Regions from separate parts of the Homo sapiens genome. Here region 2 is linked to region 1. A link means that fine-mapping ties the variant in region 1 to the expression of a gene that starts in the linked region. Tissue or cell type: whole blood. Region 1 holds a variant in brackets; the other region holds the start of a gene. All regions are shown on one strand. Distances are between the middles of the regions. Region 1 overlaps HDHD5 (haloacid dehalogenase like hydrolase domain containing 5). Region 2 holds the start of TMEM121B (transmembrane protein 121B).

Evidence for each region. PIP is the estimated chance that this variant, and not a neighbour inherited with it, causes the effect.
Region 2: it holds the start of TMEM121B, and the variant in region 1 is fine-mapped to the expression of TMEM121B in whole blood (Lepik 2017, PIP 0.95).

The regions. Positions count from the first base shown.
Region 1 is chr22:17,143,625-17,157,570 of GRCh38, reverse strand. HDHD5 (haloacid dehalogenase like hydrolase domain containing 5) reads left to right here. Exons shown (of 8, transcript NM_033070.3): 2 at 7,826-8,029; 3 at 9,011-9,123; 4 at 12,454-12,547. Among named protein-coding and RNA genes, the nearest start is that of HDHD5, 8.7 kb to the left of the region's middle. RefSeq lists an enhancer at 13,700-13,946. The variant G/C (reference allele first, on the strand shown) is at 4,724.
Region 2 is chr22:17,112,778-17,129,023 of GRCh38, reverse strand. It overlaps TMEM121B (transmembrane protein 121B), which reads left to right and starts at 7,664. Exons shown (of 1, transcript NM_031890.4): 1 at 7,664-12,727. The coding sequence starts at 7,897. The coding sequence ends at 9,633. It overlaps LINC01664 (long intergenic non-protein coding RNA 1664), which reads right to left and starts at 7,429. Exons shown (of 4, transcript NR_103793.1): 1 at 6,985-7,429; 2 at 4,253-4,369. IL17RA (interleukin 17 receptor A) reads right to left here. Exons shown (of 13, transcript NM_014339.7): 13 at 13,331-16,246. RefSeq lists an enhancer at 6,706-7,237 and a silencer at 7,823-7,952.

The DNA of each region.
Region 1 (13,946 bases):
AAGTGACTCTTCCGGTAGAGCAGAAAAAGAAGAATGCAGGATGACAGAGTTTGAGCACGAGCTTTAGAATTGAATCCTGTGCAGTCTGTTAGCGGCTTCACTTAAGGCAATTTACATAGCTTTCCAAGCTCAGTTTCCCCATCTATGTAATGGATCTATTACTTGTAATCCCAGCTACTCGGGAGGCTGAGGCAGGAGAAGCCCTTGAACCTGGGAGGGAGGTTGCGGTGAGCGGAGATCGGGCCATTGCACTCCAGCCCGGGCAACAGATCCTGACTCTTATCAAAAAAAAAAAAAAAGAAAATTAACCTTAGTTTAACTTTCTTGCTTTACCAAGTTTTTAATTTTTAAAATTTTTTACTCTTTTGTAATAGCACTTAGTTTAAAACACAACACATTGTACAGCTGTACTAAATATATCTTCATTTATATCATTGTTCCATAGCTTTTTTCTTTTGTGTGTGTGTGTGTGTGTGTGTGTGTGTATGTGTGTGAGACGGTGTCTAGCTCTGTTGCCCGGGCTGGAGTGCAGTGGCGCCATCTCGGTCCACTGCAACCTCTGCCTCCCAGGTTCAAGTGATTCGCCTGCCTCAGCCTCCCAAGTACGTGGGATTACAGGCGCCTGCCACCACGCCCAGCTAATTTTTGTATTTTTAGTAGAGACGGGGTTTCACTGTGTTGGCCAGGCTGGTCTCGAACTCCTGACCTCATGATCCGCCTGCCTTGGTTTCCCAAAGTATTGGGATTAGAAGCATGAGCCACCGTGCCCAGCCAGCTTTTTTTTTTTTTTTGAGACGGAGTCTCGCTCGCTCTGTTGCCCAGGCTGGAGTGGAGTGGCGTGGTCTCGGCTCACTGCAAGCTCTGCCTCCTGGGTTCACATCATTCTCCTGCCTCAGCCTCCGGAGTAACTGGGAGTATAGGTGCCTGCCACCACGCCTGGCTAATTTTTTGGATTTTTAGTAGAGATGGGGTTTCACTGTGTTAGCCAAGATGGTCTCGATCTCCTAACCTCGTGATCTGCCCTCCTTGGCCTTGCAACATGCTGGGATTACAGGCAGCTTTTTTCTATTAAAAAAAATTACAGGTGTGCACCACCACGCCCGGCTAATTTTTTGTATCTTTGGTAGAGATGGGGTTTCACCATGTTGGCCAGACTGGTCTCGAACTCCTGACCTCATGATACGCCCGCCTTGGCCTCCCAGAGTGCTGGGATTACAGGCGTGAGCCACAGTGCCCTACCTTAAAAAAAATTTTTTTTTTTAACTTTTGTTAAAAATGAAGACACAAACACCTACTAGCCCAGGCCTACATAAGGTCGGGTCAGGTAATTGATATCACTGTCTTCTGCCTTCACACCATGTCCCATTAGAAGGTCTTTAGGGGGCAGTCATATGCATGGAACTGTCATCTGCGATAACAGTGCTTTCTTCTGGATATCTTCTGAAGGACCTCTCTGAGGCTCTTGAGGTGTCACTCTTATCAGAAATATGTCCATTGTGGTTTGCTTGGTTTCTTTTTTTTTGTCATAGGTTTGCTTGTAAACAGATAATGTACCATAAACATTCTTCTCTAGTAATGAAAACCTTTTGGCGTTGGAGTTCATGTTTCAGACTTTTTAAGGAACTTGAGGTCTGTAAAAGCTGCTGAACCCTTCACTGTGAATTTTCTTGGATGTTCTTTTCTTTCTGTGGCTACCTTTTCTCTTGCCTCTTCTTCAGCTATGAGTTCCTGTTCCATTATAATCTTAAGGGACCATTGTATATGCAGTGTGTCATTGACTGAAACATCGTTATGGTGCGTGACTGTATTACCATCTTGCATTAGTGTGGTACATTTGTTATAATTGATGTACACCTTCACTTTTTATGGTACTGGGTGCCTGGTTCTCTGTGTACATCCTGAAGGTTGGGGAGGGGTTGGAGTGATGGGTGAGGGAGCCTTATGGATATTGCTCAATTTTCCTGAAAACTTTGCTGTTCTAAGTAGCAGGGGCTATGGATTCTTATTTTTAAGAAAGCAGATCTTGGGCCGGGCGCGGTGGGTCATGCCTGTAATCCCAGCACTTTGGGAGGCCGCGACGGGCGGATCACGAGGTCAGGAGTTTGAGACCAGCCTGGCCAATATGGTGAAACCCCGTCTCTACTAAAAATATAAAAAATAAGCCAGGTGTGTTGGCGCGCGTCTGTAGTCCCAGCTACTTGGGAGGCTGAGGCAGGAGAATCACTTGAACCCAGGAGGCAGAGGTTGTAGTGAGTCGAGATTGCACCACTGCACTCCAGCCTGGGTGACAGTGAGACTCCGTCTCAAAAAAAACCAACCAAACAAAAAAAAAAAAAAAAGGAAAGCAAATCTTGTGACTGTTTAGGCAATGACCGTTAAAACTATGTATGGTAAATTTTGCAACCATTGTACAAATGAGCTGTTTTTTAACTATGTAAGTTTTCAAAAATTCAAAAATGGGGAATAATATGAACCCCTGTGCCCATCTCCCAGATTGAGCAATGATTAACATTTTTCAACACCTGCTTTGCTTATCTCCCTCCTCCTTTTTTTGTGGCTCTAAGATTTTAAAGTAAATCTCTGATTTCTTGTCATTTCAAACCTAAATTCTTCTGTGTGTACCTCTAAGAAAAATAAGGACATTCTGGCTGGGTGCCATGGCTCACACCTGTAATCTGAGCACTTTGGGAGTTGGAAGGATTACTTGAGCCCAGGAGTTCCAGACCAGCCTGGGCAACATAGGGAGACCCTGTCTCTACAAAAGAAAAAAAAAAAAAAATTAGCCAGGCATGTGGTGGCACATACTTGTAGTCCCAGCTACTTGGGAAGCTGAAGCAGGAGGATCCTTTGAGCTCAGGAGGTTGAGGTTGCAGTGAGCTGAGATGACACTAGTGCACCCAGCCTTGGTGACAGAGTGCGACCCTGTCTTGTCTCAACCAAAAAAAAAAAAAAAAGAAAATAAGGACATTCTGAACATAACCACGATGCCAGTATCATACCTAACAACATTAGTAATTCCTTAATATCACTTAAAATCTAGGCCTTTTAAAAATTTATTTATTTATTTTTTGTTTTTATTTATTTATTTTTTGAGATGGAGTTTCCCTCTTGTTGCCCAGGCTGGAGTGCAACGATGTGATCTTGGCTTACTGCAAACACCATCTCCCGAGTTCAAGCAATTCTGCCTCAGCCTTCCGAGTAGCTGGGATTACAGGCATGTGCCACCACGCCCAGCTAATTTTGTATTTTTAATAGAGACAGGGTTTCTCCGTGTTGGTCAGGCTGGTCTCGAACTCCCAACCTCAGGCGATCTGCCCACCTCGGCCTGCCAAAGTGCTGGGATTACAGGCGTGAGCTACTGTGCCCAGCCAAGTTTCTTAAAGAAACACTGTTTCTTAAAAAAATTGTTGGCTGGGCGCGGTGGCTCACGCCTGTAATCCCAGCACTTTGGGAGGCCGAGGTGGGCAGATTGCCTGAGGTTGGGAGTTGGAGACCAGCTTTGAGACAAGACTAACCTGGGGAAACCGCATCTCTGCCAAATACAAAAATTAGGTGGGTTTGGTGGTGCGCACCTATAGTCCCAGCTACTTGGGAGGCTGAGGTGGGAGGATCGCTTGAGCCCAGGTGATGGAGGTTGCGGTGAGCCAAGATCACGCCACAAAAAAGTGTTGGAATCACCCAGTCCTTAAGGGACTTACTTTCTAAGAGCCACTCTTTTCCTTCAGAAAGGGATAGGGTGGTCGGGAAGTATCTATTTCTCCCTAACCATTTATCCTTTGGGTCATTCAGCATCCAGTCAGCCTTTGTCAATCACCTGTGAGTCTAAGCACTGTGTCAGGTATGGGGGTAAAGGGCAAATCACATCCCCTCCTCCCTTTAAGCCCAGGTAGTGATTCTCCTTGAGAAGAATAAGAAAATGAAATCCGAAAAGTGCTATGGTTACTTTTCCCAGGAAAAATGCTTGTAGTGTTTAAAGGGGATTTATGGCCATCCTGAAATCTATCTGTGGGCCTAGGTTAGGACCCCCATTCTAGTGAGATTTCTTGGGGAATAGGGAGGGGCTCCAGGGATCCTTGAGGGTACATGAGTGTATTGAGGAGAGAGAAGAAATGGAACTCACAGCTGGGAGCTGGCAGGAGGTGGGGGAAGCAGTCCTGGGGTCCCCTGTTTTCTCTGAGGTGCTGCCGAGTTGCCAGCTGAATTTGAGACTGAATCCTGAATCCAGCACTTGTGAACTGGGTGACCCTTGCTGAGTTCTTTTTGAGGTTGATGCCTTATTTGTCCAGTCAGGTAATTTAGTGCCTGTATATTGAACACCTTGTATAAACCGGCACATTTTGCCAGGCAAGGCCATTTGGAGATGCTGACACTTCCTCAAAGGGCTGCCAAAAAGAATACATAAAAATGCCTTTGTTACATGTCTGGCTGAGTGCTTGGGACAGTGACAGGTCTGGGTGCAACAGCATAAGCCTGTGAAGCCAAGGGTTAGAGGCACCATTTGTCCAGGCATTTCCTGTGTGGCGTGTGGGGCTTGGTCAGTTTTCTCTTGGCAGCTGTTTTTTGGTGTTCAGGTGTGATATCTTGTTGGCTCGAGTTGCTTCCTCCTGTTTTTCCAGGGTCCCTGCCCTCCTCCTGCTTGGCTCTGTAGCTGTCATTGTCCAAGCTTGGAGGGCTCATGTACAAGCTAACATGGAGGAGGAGCTGGAAGATTGCCTCTCCCGGG[G/C]GTCTTGCCTGTTCAGTGGAAAGAAGATGGGATCATTACAGCCACTCCAGTCCCTGTTTTACTGGACCCGAGACATACCTCAGCTTCCTGGACCCCACACGCTCTTGGTTTTCCTCCTTGCACTGTCTTTTGCTGGCAGGTCTTGTGTGGTCCATTATTAAGTAGTATTGTTCTTCCTGGTTCTCTGAGAGGCGAGACCTTCCAAAATTTTCATCTCCAGGACCTGTCCAGTGCTGATGTCTCCACTTGCCTGTCTCCCAGGTCCAAAGTGGGACTTAACCTTGTATCCTCCAATGACCTCTCGCTGCCCGCTCCTACTGTGCCCTTTGGTTCAGTGACTCATACCCGCATCCACCCTCCCGGGTTCCCAGACCAAAATAAAAAAGCATGGGAGTCCGTGTGGCTCCCTCTTCCCTCCACCCCTGTATCTGGATGGTTACCAAGTCATGACTGTTCTGTCTCTGATAATGCCCCCTGATCTCCATTCTTACCACCACTCTCCCAGGTAAATGCTCCATCTTCTCTGTCTTGGGTTGCATTTGGTCCCACCTGGTCTTTCAGTTAACTCCCTTCAGTCCACCCAATGCAGTCTTTTCTCTGCAGCCAAATTTTTTTCTATAGTTCAGGTCTGATGATACCACTTTCCATTTTCAAACTCCTTAAATTGGCCTCGGAGACCTGTGATGGCCAATCTTCCCCACCCCTGTGGGTCAGGTTCCTCTGGTGTGGGCCTATCTCTTAGTGCAAGGCTCCCTGTAGACTGTCCTGGGGCTGCCTGTCTAATTGTCTTCTCATTGAACCAGGTAGGCAGGCAGGAACCACTCATCTAGTCTGGGGGTGACTGGGGGGTGCAAAGAGTTTTGTTACAGGATGTATTTAACACTTTCATTGTCTGGCTCAAAATTCTCTTTGAAGAAACTGCCTTTGTTTAATTCTGTTTATTTATTTAGAACTTACCTAGAATTGATTTGCACTTGCAAAAATGCTGCTGTTTTAGAGTTTGCTTTCTAGGCTGGTTGCTTGCTCTGTCACCTTAGCTAAAAAGTAGGTACTGGAGCGCCTTTTCTCTTCTCTTCTCTTCTTTCTTTCTTCTTCTTTTTTTTTTTTTTTTTTTTTTTTTAGTAGAGTCTAGCTTTGTCGCCCAGGCTTAAGTGCAGTGGCACGATCCCGGCTCACTGCATCCTCTGCCTCCCAGGTTCAAGTGATTCTCCTGCCTCAGCCTCCCGAGTAGCTGGGATGACAGGCGCCCACCACCACACCCAGCTAATTTTTGTATTTTTAGTAGAGGCGAGGTTTCACCATGTTGGCCAGGCTGGTCTTGAACTCCTGACCTCAAGTGATCCACCCTCTTGAGCCTCCCAAAGTGCTGGGATTACAGGCGTGAGCCACCACACCTGGCCTGTAGCGCCATTTCTGTTTCTGGTTGCTCTATAAAGGGAGCTCTGTGCGTAGAGTAGGTGTGTCAGTAAGAATGACTTGACCTAGTTGGCACCAACAAAGAAAAATAGCAAACAAGTTAGGTTAGGTTTTTTTGATGATTGAAGAACATCTTGTATGTTAACAGGCAGTTTATAAAATGAGAAATGGAATGATTTTTAAAAACAGCATTCAGCTTTATAAATCCAGGAAATGCAGATAGAAAAGAGATAATTTTTTTACCTTTAAATTATAAAAAAGTTTGATAATTAACAGTTGTGAAAATCAATATTGTAAGGGTAAAGTACGTTGCCAGTGGACATGTTTTTGAACAGCAGTTTGTCAGTTGGTGTTTATGTAATTACATTTGCTCTCTCTGATTTATTACTCCTATTTTTAAGAATCTAGCTCAAGGAAATACCCATAATATGGGAAAAAAATCAGTATTCCTGAAGAGGTTCCTTGTAGCATTATTTTTCATAGCAAAATTGTGGAAAAACCTAACTGTCCAAAATATAGAGAACAATATTAGTGAATTATTCACTCAGAATAGTATGTAGCCAGAAATGATGTTTAGGAAATAGAGCTATGCATAATTAATATGGAATGATAGGGCAGGGTGCAGTGGCTCAAGCCTGTAATCCTAGCACTTTGAGAGGCCAAGGTGGGTGAATCACCTAAGGTCAGGAGTTCAAGACCAGCCTGGTCAACATGGCATAACCTCGTCTCCACTAAAAATACAAATATTAGGTGGGCATGGTGGGGTGCACCTGTAATCCCAGCTATTCGGGAGAGTGAGGCAGAAGAATCACTTGAACGTGGGAGGCAGAGGTTGCGGTGAGCTGAGATAACGCTGCTGCACTCCAGTCTCGGCGACAGAGCAAGACTCTGTCTCAAAAAAAAAAAAAAGACAGCCAAGAGATACCAACTAAAAAAGTAAGATGGAAAACAAAGTCAACATGATTCTATGTGTGTGTTAACATTAGAAAGGTGTGTATACTATAGATTTATAAAAGCCTTCTGGAAATTATGCAGGACAGGAATAGGACTAAGTAAGTTGGAGACAAGAAACTTTTGAAACATTTTTATATTGTCTGTAGTGATTGAGGTTATTTTGTTTTTAACTTTTTGCTATAATAAAATCTTAAAAGATGGTTATAAAGACTATTGTAATCCATAAAAATATTTATGATATGTCAAGCAAAAAAGAACGAGATGATGTAAAATGGCATATAGTTCATTTGTAGCTACAAGACAAATATGAGAATAGAGAAAAAAGGGGAACTATTAATTGGTTGTTTTAAAGTGTTGGGATTAGGCTGGACTCGGTGGCTCACGCCTAATAATCCTAGCATTAAATTTAGGAAGCTGAGGCGAGAGGATCCCTTGAGCCCAGTGGGTCAAGGCTGCAGTGAGCCGTGATCATGCCACTGTACTCCAGTCTGGGCAACGGGAAGACTCTGTAAAAGCGAATGATTAAAAATAAGTGTTGGGATTATATTTTCTTTGGATTTCTCTATTTTCTATTTAAAGATTGCCCTATCAGAATCCCATCTTCATTTTTTTGTTCTTTCTGACATAGGTTTTCAAGGGACATGAGTGACCCGAGGATGGTGTTGAGCCTCTCTTTGTAAGGGTTGTTTCTTTGTTACTCACGTACTGGTAATTATCTTACCATCTCTGCAGAGCCCACCCACCTTTGGGTTCCTGTTGGACATCGATGGAGTGCTTGTGCGGGGCCACAGAGTGATCCCTGCTGCTCTGAAAGCCTTCCGAAGGCTGGTGAACTCCCAGGGGCAGCTGCGGGTGCCCGTGGTTTTTGTTACAAATGCTGGGAACATCTTACAACACAGCAAAGCCCAGGAGCTGTCAGCCCTGCTGGGGTGCGAGGTGAGAAGGCAGCCAGAGGCATGGAAGCCCAAGGACCTGGTTCCTAATGGAGCCGCTGCCCCAGCTCCAAGTCCCTTTCCCCTGGGTTGGGATATGGAATCACCTAGTCCTAGGTCATGGCCACAGCTGAACACAGAAATCCTGCCTGTGTATTTGGCAGTTGTAGATTATGTCCTTGTATCTGTTTCTTTTCTTCTGGGCATTGGGGGTGTGAGTCCCTGGAAAGCAAAGGTCACACACATGTCTAGAACTTGCATAGCAGGAATAGCAGGTGTGGCTCTGGCGTCACACCTTGGCTTTCCTGGGTATGATGTGTGCACCTGAAGGAGTGCTGTCCTCCTCAGCCACCTGCAGCCCTGCACCATATCCCAACTTTGATGCATTCTTGTTTGTTGAGGGTGAATTCAGCTTTTGGAAAGAGTCCTTTGGAACCAGGAGAGTAAATAAAATAGCTGATTGATTAGATGATGCTGCTCAAAGTTGCATGTAAAATGTGACGGAATCAAATTGGTTCCTTGCTGTGATTTCCAGAGAGAATTCCAAAAACCTTCCAAGTAAAGGCTGCATTGTTAGGGTTAGTATAAATGTTAAGCAGCTAACTCTTAGCAGGAATGAAAATAGAAAGTAAAAGACCAGTTTCTGCGACAGTGACAGGGAGCACACATGAACCCTATGGCTTCCAAGTGGGGGCTTGGGAAATCCAAACTGAACCTGACGGGGTAGCGGTGGCAAGTGGTCAGAACCCACATCTGTGGCATTTCTGGTCTCTTGTGTGGCAAGAACTAAATGAGACAGGTTCTTCTCAGATCTGTTTGGGTGCCTTTCAGAAGTGCTGCTGGGTGCTAGAAAGGGCTTTCCTCCCCGTTCTTTTTCTGAGCGGGTTTTTTCCTTCCCTAGGCTAAAGGACCTGCCACCTGTCTCATTATTTCCCTCAACAGTTCTGTCTTCCTCTGCCCTCCCCTGTCTTGGCTGTCCCTACAGGTGGATGCAGACCAAGTTATCCTCTCTCACAGCCCCATGAAGCTCTTCTCCGAGTACCATGAGAAGCGGATGCTGGTGTCTGGACAGGGGCCCGTGATGGAAAATGCCCAGGGGTATCCTTTTGGTCTTAACTCTGGCTGAAGGGAAGGGGCAGGGCTGAGGTGTTTCCTCCCTTAGCTGAGTGGGGACTGTAGTGAGGAGTGCTGGGTGCTGGGGTACACAGGCGATGTTGTGGGCTCAGGGGAGGGAGGACAGCTCCCGACTGTGGTCAGTCCTCATGTCTGGTGGTTTCCAAAAGCCAGTTCTCATACCCCTGCATCAGAATCCTCTGGGGAGCTTAAAATACAGATCCCAGGGTATCTGCGCTGGAGCCTTAATTCACTAGGTCTCGGGTAAAACTCAGGAATCTGTATTTTTTAAAAAACAAAACACCTCTCTTAGTGGTTCTGTAACTGGGTTTGGGAACCCCTGCTCTAGCCTCTTCCTTGGGGTGCCCAGTCAGTTTATTAGCCAGTGGTAGTGAAGCAGCTACCGGGAGCCTGTCTCTGGGAGCCTGCGGAATAATACCTGGCCCGTTTTAAGCAACTGTTGTGCTGAGCACGTCCTGTGTACCAGCGGTCTGCCGCACACTCTGAATGGGACGAGGACCAGGATGAGGGCGTAGGACTTATGAATCAATCAAGGGCTTGTGCTGGAGGCAAGAATAACACCATGAGCAGTAAAGGAGCGTGTGCGATGGCGTGTGATCGAAGGCCGGTAAGCTCACAGGAGGGCGTCACAGGTGTGGGGCGTGTGTGATGGCGTGTGATCGAAGGCCGGTAAGCTCACAGGAGGGCGCCACAGGTGTGGAGCGTGTGCGATGGCATGTGATCGAAGGCCTGTGAGCTCACAGGAGTGTGCCACAGGTGTGGGGCGTGTGCGATGGCGTGTGATTGAAGGCCGGTAAGCTCACAGGAGGGCGCCACAGGTGTGGGGCGTGTGCGATGGCGTGTGATCGAAGGCCGGTAAGCTCACAGGAGTGTGCCACAGGTGTGGGGCGTGTGCGATGGCGTGTGATCGAAGGCCGGTAAGCTCACAGGAGTGTGCCACAGGTGTGGAGCGTGTGCGATGGCATGTGAAGGCCGGTAAGCTCACAGGAGGGCGTCGCAGGTGTGGGGCGTGTGCGATGGCATGTGATCGAAGGCCGGTAAGCTCACAGGAGTGCGCCACAGGTGTGGGGCGTGTGCGATGGCGTGTGATCGAAGGCCTGTAAGCTCACAGGAGTGCGTCACAGGTGTGGGGCGTGTGCGATGGCGTGTGATCGAAGGCCGGTAAGCTCACAGGAGGGCGTCACAGGTGTGGGGCGTGTGCGATGGCGTGTGATCGAAGGCCGGTAAGCTCACAGGAGGGCGTCACAGGTGTGGGGCGTGTGCGATGGCGTGTGATCGAAGGCCGGTAAGCTCACAGGAGGGCGTCACAGGTGTGGGGCGTGTGCGATGACGTGTGATCGAAGGCCGGTAAGCTCACAGGAGGGCGTCACAGGTGTGGGGCGTGTGCGATGGCGTGTGATCGAATGCCGGTAAGCTCACAGGAGGGCGTCACAGGTGTGGGGCGTGTGCGATGGCGTGTGATCGAAGGCCGGTAAGCTCACAGGAGGGCGTCACAGGTGTGGGGCGTGTGCGATGGCGTGTGATCGAAGGCCGGTAAGCTCACAGGAGGGCGTCACAGGTGTGGGGCGTGTGCGATGGCGTGTGATCGAAGGCCGGTAAGCTCACAGGAGGGCGTCACAGGTGTGGGGCGTGTGCGATGACGTGTGATTGAAGGCCGGTAAGCTCACAGGAGGGCGTCACAGGTGTGGGGCGTGTGCGATGATGTGTGATTGAAGGCCGGTAAGCTCACAGGAGGGCGTCACAGGTGTGGGGCGTGTGCGATGACGTGTGATCGAAGGCCTGTAAGCTCACAGGAGTGTGCCACAGGTGTGGAGCGTGTGCGATGGCGTGTGATCGAAGGCCGGTAAGCTCACAGGAGGGCGTCACAGGTGTGGGGCGTGTGCGATGACGTGTGATTGAAGGCCGGTAAGCTCACAGGAGGGCGCCACAGGTGTGGAGCGTGTGCGATGGCGTGTGATCGAAGGCCTGTAAGCTCACAGGAGTGTGCCACAGGTGTGGAGCGTGTGCGATGGCGTGTGATCGAAGGCCGGTAAGCTCACAGGAGGGCGTCACAGGTGTGGAGCGTGTGCGATGGCATGTGATTGAAGGCCGGTAAGCTCACAGGAGGGCGCCACAGGTGTGGAGGGGAGGGCTTGGAGTATCCCTGGGGCAGGAGTTGCCTGTGGCTTCTTGGAGGGGTACAGCGGAGCCCCAGGAGATGGCTAAGCTCCTAAGCAGGGGAAGTAGGAGGTTGGGAATGGGATAGGGAGAGGAAGGAAAGAACAGGAAGGGTGGTGCCAGGTTGTCGGGAACCTTGGAAGTAAACTTGAGGAGTCTGACCGACTTCTCAGGGCAGTGGAAAGCAGGGCACGCTTTATTGCTGATGGGGCAATCTGATAGAATCAGGATTTTGGGGAAATTCATTTTGAGAGTAATCAAACCATGTCCAGTTAAGATTGCAAGTTGGAATTGAGGATAGGAAAATGGAGGCAGATCTTAGAGGAGATAGGCTGAAGCTGGCTTGCCCCTCCCCAAGGCCGCCTCTTCCTTGATGATTTGGGTTCATCCTTTAAGATTTTAGCTCCAGCCCTACTTCTCCATGACTCCTCTGGACTCCCCAGCCCACTGAGGAGTCTCTTCTGAACTCAGCACTGACTAGCAGCACTGTTCTCAGAGAACACTGGTTTTGATGGGCTCTGAATGTGCTAGCTCCTTGGGGACAGAGTTTTTTGTTTTTTTTTGAGACAGGGTCACACTCTGTTGCCCAAGTTGGAGTGCAGTGGTGCAATCATAGCTCACTGTAGCCTTGACCTCCTGGGCTCAAATGATCCTCCTGCCCCAGCCTCCTGAGTAGACGACAGGTGTGCACCACCATGCCTAGCTGACTTTATTTGTAGAGACAAGGTCTCACTATGTTGCCCATGCTGGCTGGAACTCCTGGGCTCAAGCCATCCTCCTGCCTCAGCCTCCCAAAGTGCTGGGATTTCAGGCATGAGCCACTGCACCCAGCTGGGGACAGAGATTCTTATGTGCCTTTGCCCCCTAGGCTGTGCCCAGCATAGGACCTGGTAGCTGGCATGTGCCTGGTGACTGCTGGTGGGTTACCCAGGAGCTGCCCTCTCTACTCTACCTGTGCAGTTACAGCCTGCCTGCCAGCACCTGCAGGATTTGTGCCATCCTTGCTGGGCTCTGCTTGGTGCCCTCCTGCCTGGCTTGATCAGGAGTGGGTTGTGTTCCCTTCACTTGTGATTTGATGCATTCAGAAAGGCATCTTCCCCAAGAACTGTCCAGCATTACTTCCTGAGCTTGCTCCAGACTGGGCTTCCGAAATGTCGTCACCGTGGATGAGCTGCGGATGGCCTTTCCTCTGCTTGACATGGTGGACCTGGAGCGGCGGCTAAAGACCACGGTAATAAGGAGCATGGGTTGGGCTGTGTCTTCATCCTTCACTCCTCCAGTGCCCTGCATTGGCTGTGTCGCTGACCTTGCAAGCCCTCCTGCAGAGCTGTGATTTGTCCATGCTTCTTTGGAGGCACATCTGGCTAAGGGTTTTGTTCCCTGAATTTATGAGAATGGCCCAGAGGCTGGCTGCGGTGGCTTACACCTGTAATCCCAACGCTTTGGGAGGCTGAAACAGGAGGACTGTTTGAGCCCAGGAGTTCAAGACCAGCCTGGGCAACATAGTGAGACCCCGTCTCTACAAAAAAATTTAAAAAATTGTCCAGGCATGGTGGGTCACACCTGTAATTCCAGCACTTTGGGAGGCCAAGGCGGGTGGATCACCTGAGGTCAGGAGTTCCAGACCAGCCTGGCCAACATGGTGAAACCCCGTCTCTACTAAAAATACAAAAATTAGCTGGGCACAGTGATGGATGCCTATAATCCCAGCTACTCGGGAGGCAGAGGCAGGAGAATAACTTGAACCTGGGAGGCAGAGGTTGCAGTGAGCTGACATCACACCATTGCACTCCAGCCTGGGCAACAGAGCGAGACTCCGTCTCAAAAAAAAAAAAAAAAAAGCCACATATGGTGGCGCATGCCTATAGTCCCAGCTACTCAGGAGGCTGAGGCAGGAGGGTTGCTTGAGCCCAGGCGTTGGAGGCTGCAGTGAGCTGTGATCACTGCACTCCAGTCTTGGCGGCTGAGTGAGACCCTGTCTCAAAAAAAAAAAAGGAAAAAGCCCAGAGAAGCGAACGGCTTTATGCCCTGTCCTCTCTGTATTGCTTATAATTAGCTGGGAACCCGTTTCAGAGCCACAGCATCCCGTCCAACAAGGAGTTCCAGACTTACTGGCTGGCCTTCCCAGTGCTGCCCAGGAGAGCTGGCCATTGTGAAGTTAGCAATCCTGAGGCCCGGCACTGAGCTGCCCTCGGGAGAGGTAGCTTGCTTGCAGAGGAAGCACTGGTCAGTCTGCACATCTGCCCAGGTGCCCTGTGCGCTGGGCTCATTTTTGAGCACTGACTTTGTCCCCTAACTCATCTGATCCCTTGGTGATCCTCTGCAGCATGACTGCCATCTCTTGAGGTGCCCGTTGGCTCACTTTCTCCTCATCGCACCGTCTGTGTATCACATAGCCCAGGTCTTGAGTCAGACCATTCTCACAGTTTGACGACATGCAGTTATAAACAGATAACTTACTTTTTATTTGCTGATATAGCTTAAGTCCTTCCTCCTCCAGCGCTTTCTGATGGAACAGAGCACTTCCTCCCCTGTGAGGGCTTTCTCCCTGACCTGTGCAAGTTCTGTGGAGAACCAGAATGTCAGAGTTGGAACAGATCTCGGAATAGCTCAGAGACAGCCCCACACAG
Region 2 (16,246 bases), 30 kb after region 1:
TCATGATCTCTGAATTGCCTTCAGGGTCCTTCTTCCATTATCTTGGAGAACAGCTCCTAGCTTCTGTTGCAATGGCTGATCCATACTACTCTTACTAAAGGAGCTTGGCAACAGAGCAACACCGTTAGTGTTCTCTCCAAACTGGGTTCTCGTTCTTTTCTATATGGATGGGCTGATCATTTTTCAGAATTTCAAGTTCTTATTACTTTTTGCTTAACAGTTCTGTCTTTAAGTCATTTATGTCTCTCTTGAATTTTATTGGAAGCAGTCAGAAGGAGCTAGGTAACTCCTTCAATACTTTGTTTAGAGATTTCCTAAGCCAAACATCCAATTGCAAGTTTCATTGCTTGCAATTGTTACCTCCACAAAATGATAGAACATGAACACAATTTAGCTAAGCTCTTTGCTTCTTCCTAACAAGGATGGCCTTTTGTCCAGCTTCCAGTAAATGTTCTTCATTTCCATCTGTGGCCCCATCAGAATGGCCTTACTGCCTGTAATCCCAGCACTTTGGGAGCTCAAGGCGGGTGGATCACTTGAGGTCAGGAGTTCTAGACCAGCCTGGTCAACATGGTGAAACCCCGTCTTTACTAAAAATACAAAAATTAGCCGGGTGTGGTGGCATGCAGCTGTAGTCCCAACTACTCGGGAGGCTGAGGCAGGAGAATCACTTGAACCCAGAAAGTGGAGGTTGCAGCAAGATCACACCACTACACTTCAGCCTGGGCGACACAGTGAGACTTTGTTAAAAAAAAAAAAATTAAAAAAAAATAAAGAATGGCCTTACTATATATTCCCACCAGCATTCTGTTCAGGATTACTTAGGTATTCTCTAAGAAGATTGAGGTTTCGCTACAGCTCTCCTCTTTTCTTTCTGAGTCCTCATCAGGATCACCCTTAATGTCCACATTTCTAGCATACACCTCAAAACTCTTTCAGCCTCTACCTGTTACCCAATTTGAAAGTTGATGCCTTGGCTTCTCAAAGTGCTAGGATTGCCAGGTGCGGTGGCTCACGCCTGTAATCCCAGCACTTTGGGAGGCTGAGGCTGGCAGATCACGAGGTTAGGAGATCAAGACCATCCTGGTTAACATGGTGAAACCCCGTCTCTACTACAAATACAAAAATTAGCCGGGCATGATGGCGTGTGCCTGTAGTCCCAGCTACTCAGGAGGCTGAGGCAGGAGAATTGCTTGAACCCAGGAGGCAGAGGTTGTAGTGAGCTGAGATCGCACTACTGCACTCCAGCCTGGGCGACAGAGTAAGACTCCATCTCAAAACAAAACAAACAAATAAACAAACAAAAAACAAAGTGTTAGGATTACAAGAATGAGCCACCATGCCCAACCATATTTCCTTCTTTGTGTTTTCATTGTACTTGCTTTTCTTTCTCCAACTTTTATTTACTTATTTTGAGACAGGATCTCACTCTGTTGCCTAGGCTGGAAGTGGTGTGATCATGGATCACTGTAGCCTCAAACTGCTGGGCTCAAGAGGTCTTCACCTCAGCCTCCCAAGTAGCTGGGTCTACAGGCATGTACCATCATGCCTGGCTAATATTTTAATTTTTTATAGAGACAACGTCTTGCTATGTTACCCAGGCTGATCTCAAACTACTAGCCTCAAGTGACCCTCCTGCCTTAGCCTCCCAAAGTGCTGGAATGACAAGCCACTGTGCTCAGCCAATTTATTAAGTTGGATGTTTACCTTATTAAATGTTCAATTTTCTCCTTTGTAACACAAACATTTAAAGCTATAAATGTTCTTCTTCTGCTTTGGCTATGTCCCATCCATTTTGACAGGTGGTATTTTCATGTTCATTTAGTTCTAAATATTTTCTAATTTTTGGATGATTCATTTGGAAGTATGTCTTTACACTTCCAAATATGTGGGGGGTGGTTGGTCGTTGTTTTGTTATTTTATTCTAATCTAATTGTTGTGAGGTCAAAGGATTGGTCTGTACATGGTCAGGCTTTGTAAATGTTGCATGTAAAATTGTAAACAATGTGTAGTATCTAGTTTTGGAGGTACAGAGCTCTAAATTCAGCCATTTAGATCAAGCTTGTTAATGATATGGTTCAACTTGTATACATCTGTACCAATGTTTTATCTGTGTGAACTATCAATTACTGAGAGATGTGTTTATATTTCTTACTATCATTAGGTTATTTGCCAGTGTCTCATAAATATTACCCATTTTTATTTATATATTTTAGGGCAATGTTATTGAATACACACACATTCAGAACTATGGTCTTTCTGGAACTTGGTCCTTTTACAGCAGCAAATATGTATATAGCACTTTGTGCTGAGCACTTTCTATCTATTAATTCATTTACTCCTCATAACAACTCTGTGAAGTGGGTACTATTATTTTCCCCATTTTCTAGTGGGAAAATCAAGGAAAGAGAGATTAAGTAATTTGCCTAAGGTCACTCAGCTTCTAAATGGTGGAGTCAGCCAGGCGCGGTGGCTCATGCCTGTAATCCCCGCACTTTGGGAGGCCGAGGTGGGCAGATCACCTGAGGTCAGGAGTTCAAGAACAGCCTGGCCAACATGGTGAAACTCTGTCTCTACTAAAAATACAAAAAAAAATTAGCTGGGTGTGGTGACGGGCGCCTATAATCCCAGCTACTTGGGAGGCTGAGACAGGAGAATTGCTTGAACCTGGGAGGAAGAGGTTGCAGTGAGCCGAGATCGTGCCACTGCACTCGAGCCTGGGTGACAAAGTGAGGCTCCGTCTCCAAAAAATAAAAAAAATAAATAAAAATAAAATAAAACTAAATGGTGGAGTCAGGGTTTGAATCCAGGTAGTCTGGCTATAGAGTATGTGCCCTTCACTACTATGGTGTACTGTCTTCTATCATTACATAGTGAACTTCTTTATCCCTAAGAATATTCTTTGTCATATAGTTTATTTTTTTGGTATTAATATTGCCAAACCCACTTTTTAAAGTTGATATTTGCCTAGTTTAATTATATACATGCATTAAATTATATTTGTGTATTTTTTCTTCAGCCCTTTTTTACTTTGTTTGTCTTTATATTTTAGGGATGTTTCTCTTTTTCTTTTATTTATTTATTTTTGAGACAGGGTCTTGCTCTGTCACCCAGGCTGGGGTGCAATGGCGTGATCATAGCTCACTGCAACCTCCAACTCCTGGGCTCAAGGGATCCTCCCACTTCAGCCTTCTGACTAGCTGGGACTACAGGCATGTATCACTACACCTGGCTAATTAAAAACGATTTTTTGAAGGCCGGGCATGGTGGCTCACGCCTGTAATCCCAGCACTTTGGGAGGCCGAGGTGGGAGGATCACCTGAGGTCAGGAGTTCGAGATCAGCCTGACCAACATGGAGAAACCCCGTCTCTACTAAAATTACAAAATTAGCTGGGTGTGTTGGCGCATGCCTGTAATCCCAGCTACTCGGGAGGCTGAGGCAGAAGAATCGCTTGAACCTGGGAGGAGGAGGTTGTGGTGAGCTGAGATCTCACCATTGCCCTCCAGCCTGGGCAACGAGAGTGAAACTCCATTAAAAAAAACAAAAACAAAAACAAAACCTGCGTCCCTCAAAAAAAAAAATGGTTTTTTTTTTTTTTGGTAGAAATGGCATCTCATTTTGTTGCCCAGTCTGGGCTTGAGGGTTCCTTCTGCCTCAGTCTCCCAAAGTGCTAGGATTACAGGCGTGAACCACCATGCCAGGCCATGGGATATTTCTTATAAAAGCCTATAACTGGACATTTAAAAAAAATCCATCTGATCATGTGTCGTTTAATATGACATCTATTGTGATTACTGATTATTTAGCTTTATTTCTACCATCCACTGCATTCTGACTTCTGTTATTTCTGATGAGAAGTCTGCCATTAATCTAATTGTTGTTTGTTGTAAGTAATTTTTTTTTTACTGTTTGATTTCTCTTAAGATCTTTTTCTTGTCTAGAGTTCTACAATTTTACTTGAAAACATCTCGGAGCATGTTTATTTTTATTCATCCTGTTTAGGATTCATTGCAATTCCTAAATCTGTGGGTTGGAGAAGTTCTTTCACCAATTTTGGAAAATTCTCAGTTCAAATTTCTGTATTGTCCTTCCCTTATTGTTTTATATTCTCCTTCTGGAGCTTCTGTTAGACATATTTTGGATATTCCAATCTATCTCTCATGTCTCTTGTCTCCTAGATATTTTCAGTCTCTAGCTCTCTGTACTACATTCTAGAGAATGTCTTCATATATATTGTTAAATTTACTCACTTCAGTTGTGTCTAATTTGCTGTTGAGCTCATCCATTAATTTTTCAGTGACTATACAGCAGTCTCTCCCATTTGCAGTTTCACTTTTCATGGTTTCAGTTCCATGGTAAAGCACTGTCTGAAAATATTAAGATATTTTGAGATAGAGAGGCACCACATTCACATACACTTTTATTATAATATATTGTTATAATTGTTCTATTATTAGTTACTATTCTTAATCTCTTATGGTACCTAATTTATAAATTAAACTTTATCATAGGTATGTATAGGAAAATAAACATAGTATATGTATATCTTCAGTTTCAGGCATCCACTGGAGGTCTTGGAATGAATCCCTCATGGATAAAGGGAGGACTACTATATACTTGAAATCTAAAGGTTTCTTTTCTTTTCTTTGAGACAGGGTCTTGCTCTGTCACCCAAGCTGGAGTACAGTGGCATGATCATAGCTCATTGTAACTTCGAACTCCTGGCCTCAAATGACCCTCCCACTTTAGCCTCCTGGGTGGCTAGGAGTCACAGGCACATGCCACCACGTCTGGCTACTTAAAAAAAAAATTATTTTTATGGCCAGGTGTGGTGGCTCATGCCTGTAATCCCAGCACTTTGGGAGGCTGAGGCGTGCAGATCACCTGAGGTCGGGAGTTCGGGACCAGCCTGACCAACATGGAGAAACCCTGTCTCTACTAAAAATACAAAAATGAGCCAGGTGTGGTGGCGGGCGCCTGTATTCCCAGCTACTTGGGAGGCTGAGGCATGAGAATCGCTTGAACCCGGGAGGCGGAGGTTGCAGTGAGCCGAGATCGCACCACTGCACTACAGCCTGGGGGATAGAGCAAGATTCTGTCTTGAAAAAAAAAATTATTTTTAGAGATGAGGTCTTGCTATCTTGCCCAGGCTGATCTCAAATGTGCCCGGCCAGGTTTTTTGTTTGTTTGTTTATTTTTGGGCACCTCAGGTAGGACTGAAGTGTTTGTTTGTTTGCTTTCCCCCCAGACGGAGTATTGGTGAAACACCATATTGATCAGGCTGGTCTTGAACTCCTGACCTCACCCTGCCCCACATGGGTGGACCCTGGCCCCAACTGGCACCCTGAATGTCTCACACTGTGAGCCTGAGAAGACCGGCTCCAAGAATCAGTGCTCCTAACCATGGCAGCTTTGTTCCTGGGCACTTACCAAAGTGCAACGCTACTGGGGAGCAGAACTCAAGAGTCCAGGCAGAAAACAGCCATTGGTGGCCCCTGCTATGAGTCGATGTTCCCTGGGAGGCTAAGGCATGGGCTAATGGAATGATGATAACACAGAGACCTTTAACTGAGCATGGACTCTGAGCCAGGGACTGGCTCTGTCATCGAAGAGAGATTACACACATGATCTCTCTTCATACTCACAACAATCCCTTAAGGTAGGAGTGAGGTCCTTTTTTTTTTTTTTTTGAGATGGAGTTTTATTCTTGTTGCCCAGGCAGGAGTGCAATGGCACAATCTTGGCTCACTGCAACCTCTGCCTCCCGGGTTCAAGCGATTCTCCTGCCTCAGCCTCCCGAGTAGCTGGGATTACAGGTGCGTGCCACCACCCCTGGCTAATTTTCGTATTATTAGTAGAGGCGGAGTTTCACTGTGTTGGCCAGGCTGGTCTCAAACTCCTGACCTCAGGTGATCTGCCCGCCTCTGCCTCCCAAATTGCTGGGATTATCACCATGCCCGGCTAGTTTTGTACTTTTAGTGGAGATGGGGTTTCTCCATGTTGGTCAGGCTGGTCTCAAACTCCCGACCTCAGGTGATCCGCCCGCCTCGGCCTCCCAAAGTGCTGGGATTACAGGCGTGAGCCACCGCGCCCGGCTGGGGTGGGGTCCTGTTTACAGATCAACATTCTGAGGTGAAATATTCAGGCTAAGACCACAAAGGTGTTAAGTGGCACAGGTGGGATGGCGGCCCCAGAGCTCCTGCCCTCACCACCATGCCAGCTTTCCAAAAGTGGTGTGTGTGGGGGAGGTGGAGATGGTGCAGGTTCTAAATTGTATATTTACCAGGGATTGGCTGTGCAGACTGACCTCCACGGAACTGGAAAAGGCAGGTTTGGCTGAAACGGACTCTTATTTAAGAGGCAGATTTAGGGGCGAGGCCTGACTAACCCCTGCGGCTCCACTGCATACAGCTCCCTCACACTGCATGGTGTTATCACGCTGCAAGCTGTTACCTAGGGGAGATGAGCCCGCAGCAGCAGCTTCAAAGGTCATGAAATCAGGGAGCCCACAGGCCCCACAAGGGTGCAGAGGCCAATAGGGCAGGCAAGCTTTCTGCCTTGTTTTCATGGGGCTGGGAATGGGATGTTTCCATTATTGGTGAACCTCAGATTGTTTTTGAGCCCCAACTGCTCTAGTCATTTCCTTCTCCCTTAAACCCCTAAAGGCAGCACTCTACCTTCTGCCTTCCAGAGTTGCTGCATCGACATCCATCCCCAGCCTTGGATGAGTCCTGGGGTGAGCTGGTGTGCTCTCTCCTGAGACTGTCTACGCAGGGCCACTGACTGCATTCCTTCCTTGGTGTCTCTGTCTACTGTGGTGGGCTGTAACCCTCACCATCATCCCTTTGGAGCCTTTGTTTTCATCCAGGTGCCCACACCTCTAAATGCCCCTTTATTTTACTCTCTGCTAGACACATCTTCCTATTACGTCCCATTCTGCTTTAAAAACCTTTGAGAAGCCCGCTGGGCGGATGCCACTTGCCCAATCTCGTTCCCTCGTCTCTCCTCCCAGGCAGGTGTTTTCAGGGAACTTCTCCATCCGCTGGAATCGGGTCGTCCCTGAGATGGCTCGCGACCCCAGGGCTGGGTACATGGATATTTAGGACTATAGGTCTGGGGCTGCTGCCCGAGCCCTTTTTGCCAACATGGCCTGACTCCTCCACTGGTTTTTAGTGCCTTAGGGAGAGGCGGATGGCCCCATGGGAAGGGCGCTGGACGGAGGGTGGAGGCGAAGCTGCCCACTGCCTGCCTCAGAGCTGAGAAGGCCAGGTGCAAAGCCCGCCCTGTAGCTTGAGCCCATCGCTTGGGGGCACCGAAGCCATCTAGGTACTAACGCCCTGCGGTACAGCCGGTGGGATTCCCAGCGACTTCCTTAGGAGTCCGCGCTCCATGGGAGTCCCCCCGCACCGGGTCGCCTCGCCCTGGCGGCTGCCCGCGCCTCCTCCCGCTTCCTCCAGGCCACAGGGCTCCCGACCCGACTGTGACGCACTGCACCCCCGCCCCTTCTCTTCCCGTTGATCCAGCGCGCCGCGCTTTCTCCTCCTCTGGTCTCGCTGCTTCCTCTCCCCCTCGAATCCAGTCCTGGTTTCCCCGCCGCCAGCCTCCCTCCCTCCCGGCGGGACTCGCTCCCCGCCCCGCCCCGCCCCGCCCCCGCCTCGCCTGTCTTCACCGCGGTCCGCTCGGTTCACCGCCTGCCCCCTCTCCCTGCCGCCCGGCCCGGCTCGCCCAGTCCAGTGGCTCCAGTCCGGATCTCGCCGCCGCCCGGCCCAGGTGCGAGTCCCCACTGCTGGGGAGGCGGCGGGCCCCGGCTCCCCTCGGCCGCCTAGCCCGCCTCGCCCGCCCGGGGTTGGCGGGGAGGGAACAGCTGGGCGGCCCCAGAGCCCCTCGGAGGACAATGCGCCCGGCGCTCGGCCACCCTCGCTCGGTCTCCTCCGCGTCCGGTTCCTTCCCGCCGCCCCCGGCAGCCGCCCGGCTGCAGCCCCTCTTCCTCCGCGGGGGCTCCTTCCGCGGCCGGAGAGGCTCCGGCGACAGCAGCACCAGCACCAGCACCAGCCGCGGGGGAGGCGGCGGCAGACGCGGCGGGGGCGGCGGCTCCCCGAGCAGCAGCACGGGCGCCGAGCGCGAGGACGACGACGAGAGCCTCAGCGTCAGCAAGCCGCTGGTGCCCAACGCCGCGCTCCTGGGGCCGCCGGCTCAGGTGGGCGCCCCCGCCGGCCCCGCGCCTGTCGCCTTCTCCTCCTCAGCGGCCACCTCCTCCTCCACCTCCACGCCCACCTCCTCCTGCAGCATGACAGCCGCGGACTTCGGCGGGGGCGCCGCGGCCGGGGCCGTCGGGGGCCCCGGGAGCCGCTCGGCGGGGGGCGCGGGCGGCACCGGGACCGGCAGCGGCGCCTCCTGCTGCCCGTGTTGCTGCTGCTGCGGCTGCCCAGACCGCCCCGGCCGCAGAGGTCGGCGCCGCGGCTGCGCCCCCAGTCCCAGGTGCCGCTGGGGCTACCAGGCGCTGTCCGTGGTGCTGCTGCTGGCGCAGGGCGGCCTGCTGGACCTGTACCTCATCGCCGTCACCGACCTGTACTGGTGCTCCTGGATCGCCACTGACCTGGTGGTGGTGGTGGGCTGGGCCATCTTCTTCGCCAAGAACAGCCGGGGCCGTCGGGGCGGCGCAGCCAGCGGCGCGCACAACCACCACCTGCACCACCACCACGCCGCGCCGCCCCTGCATCTGCCCGCCCCCTCGGCCGCTACCGCTGGGGCCAAGGCACGCGGAGCCCGCGGGGGCGCCGGCGGCGCGGGGGGCGGCCTGGGGGCGGCCGCGGCAGCGGGCGAGTTCGCCTTCGCCTACCTGGCCTGGCTTATCTACTCCATCGCCTTCACTCCCAAGGTGGTGCTGATCCTGGGCACGTCCATCCTAGACCTCATCGAGCTACGCGCGCCCTTCGGCACCACGGGCTTCCGTCTCACCATGGCGCTGTCGGTGCCCCTGCTCTACAGCTTGGTGCGGGCCATCAGCGAGGCGGGCGCGCCCCCGGGATCGGCAGGACCCCTGCTGCTGCAGCCCCAGCGGCACCGCGCGGCCGGATGCTTCCTGGGCACGTGCTTGGACCTGCTCGACAGCTTCACGCTGGTGGAGCTGATGCTGGAGGGCCGCGTGCCGCTGCCCGCGCACCTGCGCTACCTGCTTATCGCCGTCTACTTCCTCACCCTCGCCTCGCCGGTGCTCTGGCTCTACGAGCTCAACGCCGCGGCCGCAGCGGCTGCATCCTGGGGCCAGGCCTCCGGGCCTGGCAGCTGCAGCCGCCTTCTGCGCCTGCTGGGCGGCTGCCTGGTGGACGTGCCCTTGCTGGCGCTGCGCTGCCTCCTGGTGGTCAGCTACCAGCAGCCCCTCTCCATCTTCATGCTCAAGAACCTCTTCTTCCTCGGCTGCCGGGGCCTGGAGGCCCTGGAGGGCTGCTGGGACCGGGGCAATCGGGCCTCCCCGAGTCGGGCCAGAGGGGGCTACGGTGCTCCGCCCTCCGCCCCTCCACCACCTCCGCCACCACCTCAGGGAGGCTCCCAGCTGGGCCACTGCATCTCGGAGAACGAGGGGGGTGCTCATGGCTATGTCAACACCCTGGCTGTGGCCTCTCAGAATTGAGGGTGAAGGGCACGGGTCCTTGTTTTTGGGTTGAGAGTCCCCAACCCCCTTGTCTTCTACCTTCTGTCACCTAGATTTGATCAGGGTCTATTTGGAAGAGGTAACCCTTTTCAGGGCTAAGGGCCAGGGTGTTCTTCTGCACCCTGGGGTGAGGACGGCTTGGAGGGAGACCAGCAGTTAACGGTGAGGGAGGTAGGTGCACTTACCCTCTCCTCTCTTCTCCTATCCTACCCCAATCCTGACCTCCAAGGGGCTGGTACCTCTGCTTCTTGCTTTGCCCACCTCCACTCTAATTCCCATCCATTAGGAGGAGAGGGGTGCTGGGCCTTGGACCTTCTCCCTTGCTTAGAAGTGCCAGCCTCTTTTAGGCTGTGGTTAGTGGCCATTGTCCCATGCCTTGAAATTGACCCAGAACCCACTTTCCACTGATGTGTCTCTTGGATTTCTTCCAGGTGATAGATACAAAGTGTATGTCTCTGTGTGTGTAGTGTTGTTTTCTCGTGTCCACCCTGTGGCCCTTTGCAATGGGTAGGAGATCTGGGGAGGCCCTGCCCCCTACACCATACTTATCACCACCCTCCTCTTTTCTGCCTGGATTTGTGACCATGAATTCCCAGGAAGAGCTGGGCCCCTGGGAGCTGCCCAGGTACTCCCCTTGAAGGGAGAATCTCACCCAGGATCTTCCTCAATACTGCTCCTCTCTTCTCAGCTCAGGGAGAGGAGGGGATCCATTCTCTAAGGACCAAACTGCACCCTTTCTTGGGTGAGTGAGCATTTCTACCTCCGTGCTTTCAACTTTTGTTGCATCATGCACTGATGCTGCTTGCAAAAAATGAAGACAAAATACTCAGAAGTTGCATTTGCCATGGCCACTGGCTCCAGCTGGGGTTTGGTGCCAGTGTTATTACAGGGTCTGCGGAGTATCAGCCATTGGCTTGGCCTCTCTCTGTTCCTCCCTCTGCACCTAGAACTCTTATCCTTCCTGTGGTTTGGTGCCGACTGGGTCGGATCTGGGCTTAGAGTAATAGCTTTGGTGGGTTTCCTGGATGGATGTGAAGTTGGGCCTCCCATGGGCCCAAGGGAGTAGGAAGCCCCATTCCCCACCTGTCCTTCCTCTAGGAAGTGTAGATCAGAAAGTGAGGTGGTGACCTCCCACCTCTGGTCTGGTTAAGAGTCTCACTAGGGCCAAGGCAGGCTGCAGAACTTTCCCTCTTCCTCTCATTGAGGGTGATGACAAGAGACATCCGGGGACTGTGCACTTACAGTCGGTGTGGAATGTCACTCTTGCAGTCTTTGAGGCAGGATAAGTATTTTTACATATTTTAAGGGTGCAGGAGGACAGCAGCTAACAAGGCCAGGAAATACTCACTTCCCTCCACCCTCAACAGGATGTGGTGGGGGTGAAACTTGAAGAATTTTTGTTTCCCCTTCTCCCTTCTTACGTTTGGGAAGTTTTATGTAGTGTAACAAACTCTAGACGAGTTACCAGAAGATGTGGATTCTAGTTCTGATTCTGTCACTCATTGGCTTTGAGTGACATATTTTTATTTCCTGGGCCTGTTTTCTCACATTAAAAAAGTAGAAGTTAGATGAGTGATCTCTAAGGTTGAAGGTAATTTCAGCTCTCACATTCTTTTGAGTTTGTGGCTCTTGAAAGCCCTGGTCCTGATGCTCCCTGTAAAGGTGGCTGGGAGAGAAGCCAGCCAGGCTGCACTTGCAGAACATTCCCTGCTCTGTACTGGGTGTGTGAAGCCCCAGCAGAGAAGGCCGGAGGGAGGGCTTGGGTGCCTGGGCTGGGTGTGGGGCAGGGCCTGGCACAGCTGCAGAGTGCACAGGGAGGGTCAGAAGTGCCAAGTCACTGGCCGTTAACTCAGCACCCAGGCCAAGCCCCCGCCTCCCACTTGAAGCCCCCTCTTACAACTGTTTTGGGGGCTTGGAGCAGAAGACACCCTTGTAGACAGACATAAGAGGGGCAGAAGGCTTGACCAGAGTTCTCTTGAGCCTCCTCATGCTCTCAGAGCAGGGAACAGCGGGGGAAAATGTTTACACTCCATGCACAATCTGTGCTTCCAGTCCCTCACCCTATGTGGCCCAATAGCTGGCTGGATTTCACACTTAATTGGTATTTTTTTCTGCCTTCTTCCCCTGCCCCCACTGACTCCTCTCCTCTCCCTTTGATTGTACTCAAGGTTCTGGGGCCTGGGCCCTGGGTGGGTACCAACAGCTGCTCGCTGTTCCCATGTCCTCTCTCCAGCTTTGCTGTGTTTCTCTGCTACCTAATCTCAGTGACTGTGAAAGGACATTGTGTCTGAGCCATGGCCAGCCGCTGGCTGGCCCCCTGATCTGCCCCCCTTCTATTGTTTGGATGGCCATCTCCTGCTGGGCCTCCCTGACTGTAAAATCTCTGTACTGTTTGTTAGGTTTTTGGTGGGAGGCTGTGATAAGTTCCAATGAGCTGCCACTTCCCTGGATATGTCAAGAAGCTGATGGCAACTTGGCCAATTCTGGCAGATATCAGGCCCCCAGTTCAGCCCCAGTCACCCTCTTTTACACATGTGGGTCAACCACTGTGTGCTCAGAGGGTCAGTCCCTTCCTCTGCTGTGTTTTTCTTGAGTCCTTGCACTCACTTCCCCTGCCCCAGTCACGATGACCCCTAAAGCTTCCTTTGCCCTTGCTTTCTAGGGCATCCCTAGTGAAGGGGCAAACCTGAGATTTCTCCGTGGACCTGACAGCCAAGGCAGGGCACTGTCTCCTGAGGCCAGTGCCAGCACGTGCATGGTTCACAGAAAAGGATCCTGGGCTCAGAATCTCGAGAACCGCCTGCTCCTAACAATTCAGCAAGTCAGGGGCTTCCTCTCTGTTAGTCCCCAAATCCTTACTTATTTTAAAAAGACTAGACCCTCTCTAAAGACTGTTCCATTTTAACATGTCCTGATTCTGCATCCGTGGGTTTTGTGAAAGAGAGCTAGCTGGCGGTTAGAGCCTGGAAGAAGGAGGGAAGTGGCACCTCACTAGCATTTATCACTTTTTTCCTTCTCTTTTTAAAAATAAAACCAGACTCTGTTCTGAAAATAAAAAACTTGAGACTTGTGACAAGCTTCCTGTGTGGTTTGTTTTAAGATCTTTTCTGTCCTGGTTTCCTTACAAAATTCTTAAATGTCACTGTGACATTCGCCATTATTTTATAAGTTTGTGTTAACATTATGGGTACACCTTGGCCCTTCTAGGCAGTTGGCATGTTTTTCAGGGAGGCAGTGAAGCTGTGGCCTGGAGCTGGTGAGTGTCTTGACATGCTTTGTTGGCACAGCCAGCTCAGCTCTAATGGACTCAGCCTGAGAACGATTTTTTCTCATCACCCTCGGCTCTCTCTCACTTTTCTTTCCTTCCTTCTTTCTTTTTCTTTGTTTTTGAGACAGGGTCTCACTCTGTCACCTGGGCTGGAGTGCAGTGGCGCCATCATAGTTCACTGCAGCCTCAACCTCCTGGGCTCAAACAATCCTCCTGCCTCAGCCTCCCAAGTAGCTGGGACTACAGAAGTGTGCCACCACGCCCGGCTTCCCATTTCTTTCTAAAAGAGTAGCTTTCCAAAGGGGGAACATCTTGAGAAACTAATTTTTAAATACTGTGCCCTCCTCTATCACTCTTGCCCCAGCCAGAAGCACAAATTCTTACGTATGAATAAGAAGAACAAGGCCATGGGTTTTTGTTTGGTTTTATTTTAACATGAAGGGTAGTATTAAGTCTAAGCAAGAACACTGGGCCTGCACCAAAATAAACAAACACACAGTGATTTTTTTTTTTTCTTAGCACAGAGGCAGCCAGTATTACACAGCCCCTCTCTGTGTTGTGACCCTAGCTTGCTGCTTCTGGCTGTGCCAAATGCTAAGCAGGCGTTTCACTCAGGGCAGCCCGGGAGGCAAGGTCTGAGAGTGGAAGCTCCTGGGAGCCTGAGCTCTCTCTGCCTCTCGTTAGCTGTGGCTTTGGCCATCAACTGGAACTATGTCATTATTTATAAAACAGGAGCAATCACAGGGCTGTGGTGAGAATCACATGAGGTGACACATGTGAAATGGTCCTTTCCCCTAAGACATATATAATTGTAACAAGGAACAAAATTTACATAGAAAATAATTACAGAACAACGTAGGACCATGTCTTCATTTCTCCCTGGAGCGGATGTAAAATAAGGTGATTGATTTGAGCAAGCATGTTATGAATATTTAGAAATGTCTTCTAGGGAAGCAAGCTGGCGCTCACCGATTTTGGTTTGCCAGGCATATCAGAAGGCACTTTGTGACAGGTGCAGTAGGGACGCGGAGTGATCTCTTCACGTGTAGGCAATGCCCAGCCCACACCTAGGCCTTGCCTGAGTCTGGCCATGCAGTTCTTGCCCTAAGGAAGAACAGGAAAATATAGCGCGTGGTTGACTGTCAGGCCCTCTGCCCCTTCCCTCGTCACAGCCACCTTCAGGGCTGCTTTCTCTCCATTTTCCTGAGGCCGAGAAAGAGGAGGTAGCTGGCACAATGCCACATTGCAGTCAGGAAGAAAAGCCAGTGTGCACCAAGGCCCTTCTTCCTCCCACATCTGCACTGCTCCAGGCAACCTTCGGTAGTCGGCTGTTGCTTGGGTCCAGCTTCCTTTCCATGAAAGCTCAGCCATTCTAGCAAAAAAGCAGGGGCTGTTTTCATCTTCTGAGAGAATCCCATGACACTGGTGAGCAGAGGCGGCCAGTGGGACACCCGTGCAGGGAAGCAGGCAAATGCAGGGACCAGCCACCCGCATCCCTCCTTTCTACTCCCTCTCCTCCTCCTACCTGGTCACTGTGTACCTTCTTCCTGTCTCATCAGAGAGGAAGGATCCAGTGAGCGAACTCATCTTATAGTCAATGACCTAAGGGGTTATTCCTCCTGGGAAGGACTCCAGGGGGAGGTGGGCTGGGCCAGGCTTCCTGGCACACTTCAAACCATGAGACAGGAGACTGCATGTTCCTCCCACAGGCAAGACTGGCCCACCCGGGTGACTGCCTGCTTTCATCAACCTAAATGGACAGGGCGAGAGTGTGGACCCAGTGCTAGGATCTGGGAGAGGCGATGGGGCATGGAGAGCCATGCAGAGGTGGAGGGCAAGATGGACCTGGATGCCATTTCAGAGTGAGGGGAGGCCCCGTGGGGAAAGCGTCGGGTACAGAATTAACATGAACAGCTTGTGCAATGGGTTTAGGGGTAGCTGCTTTTCTTCATATTCTTCTATAAAATATACCCATGGAATCCATATTGTTGCCATTTTTCCACAATGGACATGTTCACTCAGCCAAGTACTTCCTGAGCTCCTGAGAGACGCCAAATATGGGAACACATATTACTTCTATAATCTGAAAAGGCAAACACCGGAGGAAGAGAGCAATACCTAATAGCAGGGAAAGAGGATCAGTGGTACCTCAGGGGGCACAAACTGCTCTGCCCCAGAAGCAGGCTGGTGCCACTCGGGGATACTGCAGGCTTGCCAGGACCCCATGAGGTGGGAACTCCTGCCCCACCCACTTTACAGATGAGCAAGCTACCTAGGGCGGACGAGCAGCTGGCCAGCCCCCAACCCTGCTGCCTCTTCTTTGTAAGGATCCTCTGTCCGACACAGTTGACTTGTGGGATGCAGGCCCGGCTGCTGGAGCAGCGGCCCTCCATCTCACTCTGTCCTCAGGTGCCCCGGGCCTTGCTGGAGTCCCAGCTGGCAGGGCGCTAAGGCAGAAGAGGGCCCTGCATACACCTCATTTATTTAGGAAGGGGAGCACCAACCACAGAGCCCAAAGGCTATAGAGTTAAAACCACCCACTGCATTGTAAGTACATCTTCTTCTCTCTTATGCCCTATTTAATTTTCAAAGATAAACAGGAAAGGCCAGGCACGGTGGGCTCAGGCCTATAATCCCAGCACTTTGGGAGGATGAGGCGGGCAGATGGCTTGAGCCCAGGAGTTCGTGACCAGCCTGGACAACATGGTGAAACCCCATTTCTACAAAATATATACACACAAATTAGCCGGGCACAGTGGTGCACGCCTGTAGTTCTAGCCACTGGCAGGCTGAGGTGGAAAGATGGCTTGAGCCTGGGAGGTCGAGGCTGCAGTGAGCCATGATTGCACCACTGTAATACAGCCTGGTGACAGAGAGACCCTGACTTAAAAACAAACAAAAAACCAAAACACAACAAAAGCAAGAAAGAAGTATATCCATCATACCCTTGCATTCAGAGATCCCAGCTCAAACTGCTGAATGGATGTTTCAGAGACCGAACACCACCCTTTTTAGACCCTAAACACCTTCAAGGACCTTCCTATGCAGAAAAGAGAAACTGGTTTTGAATCAAAGTAATTATTCCTTAAAAAAAAAAAAAACAAAAAAAAAACTAGGATCAAGATAGTAGGCAGGAAAAAGTCATGAAACTCTACGCGGGAGTTGGGAGCTTGTTGGTGGCTGCGTGCATAATCGGCCTGGACACAGGCATGGTTAGATGCTCCGCTGCTTCTTTCCCAACCGGAACCACCTCTGCACACTCAGGAGACGAGCTGAAGAGGTGGGAGGGGCACAGCGTGGAGGGCACCTGTTCTTAGAGAGACA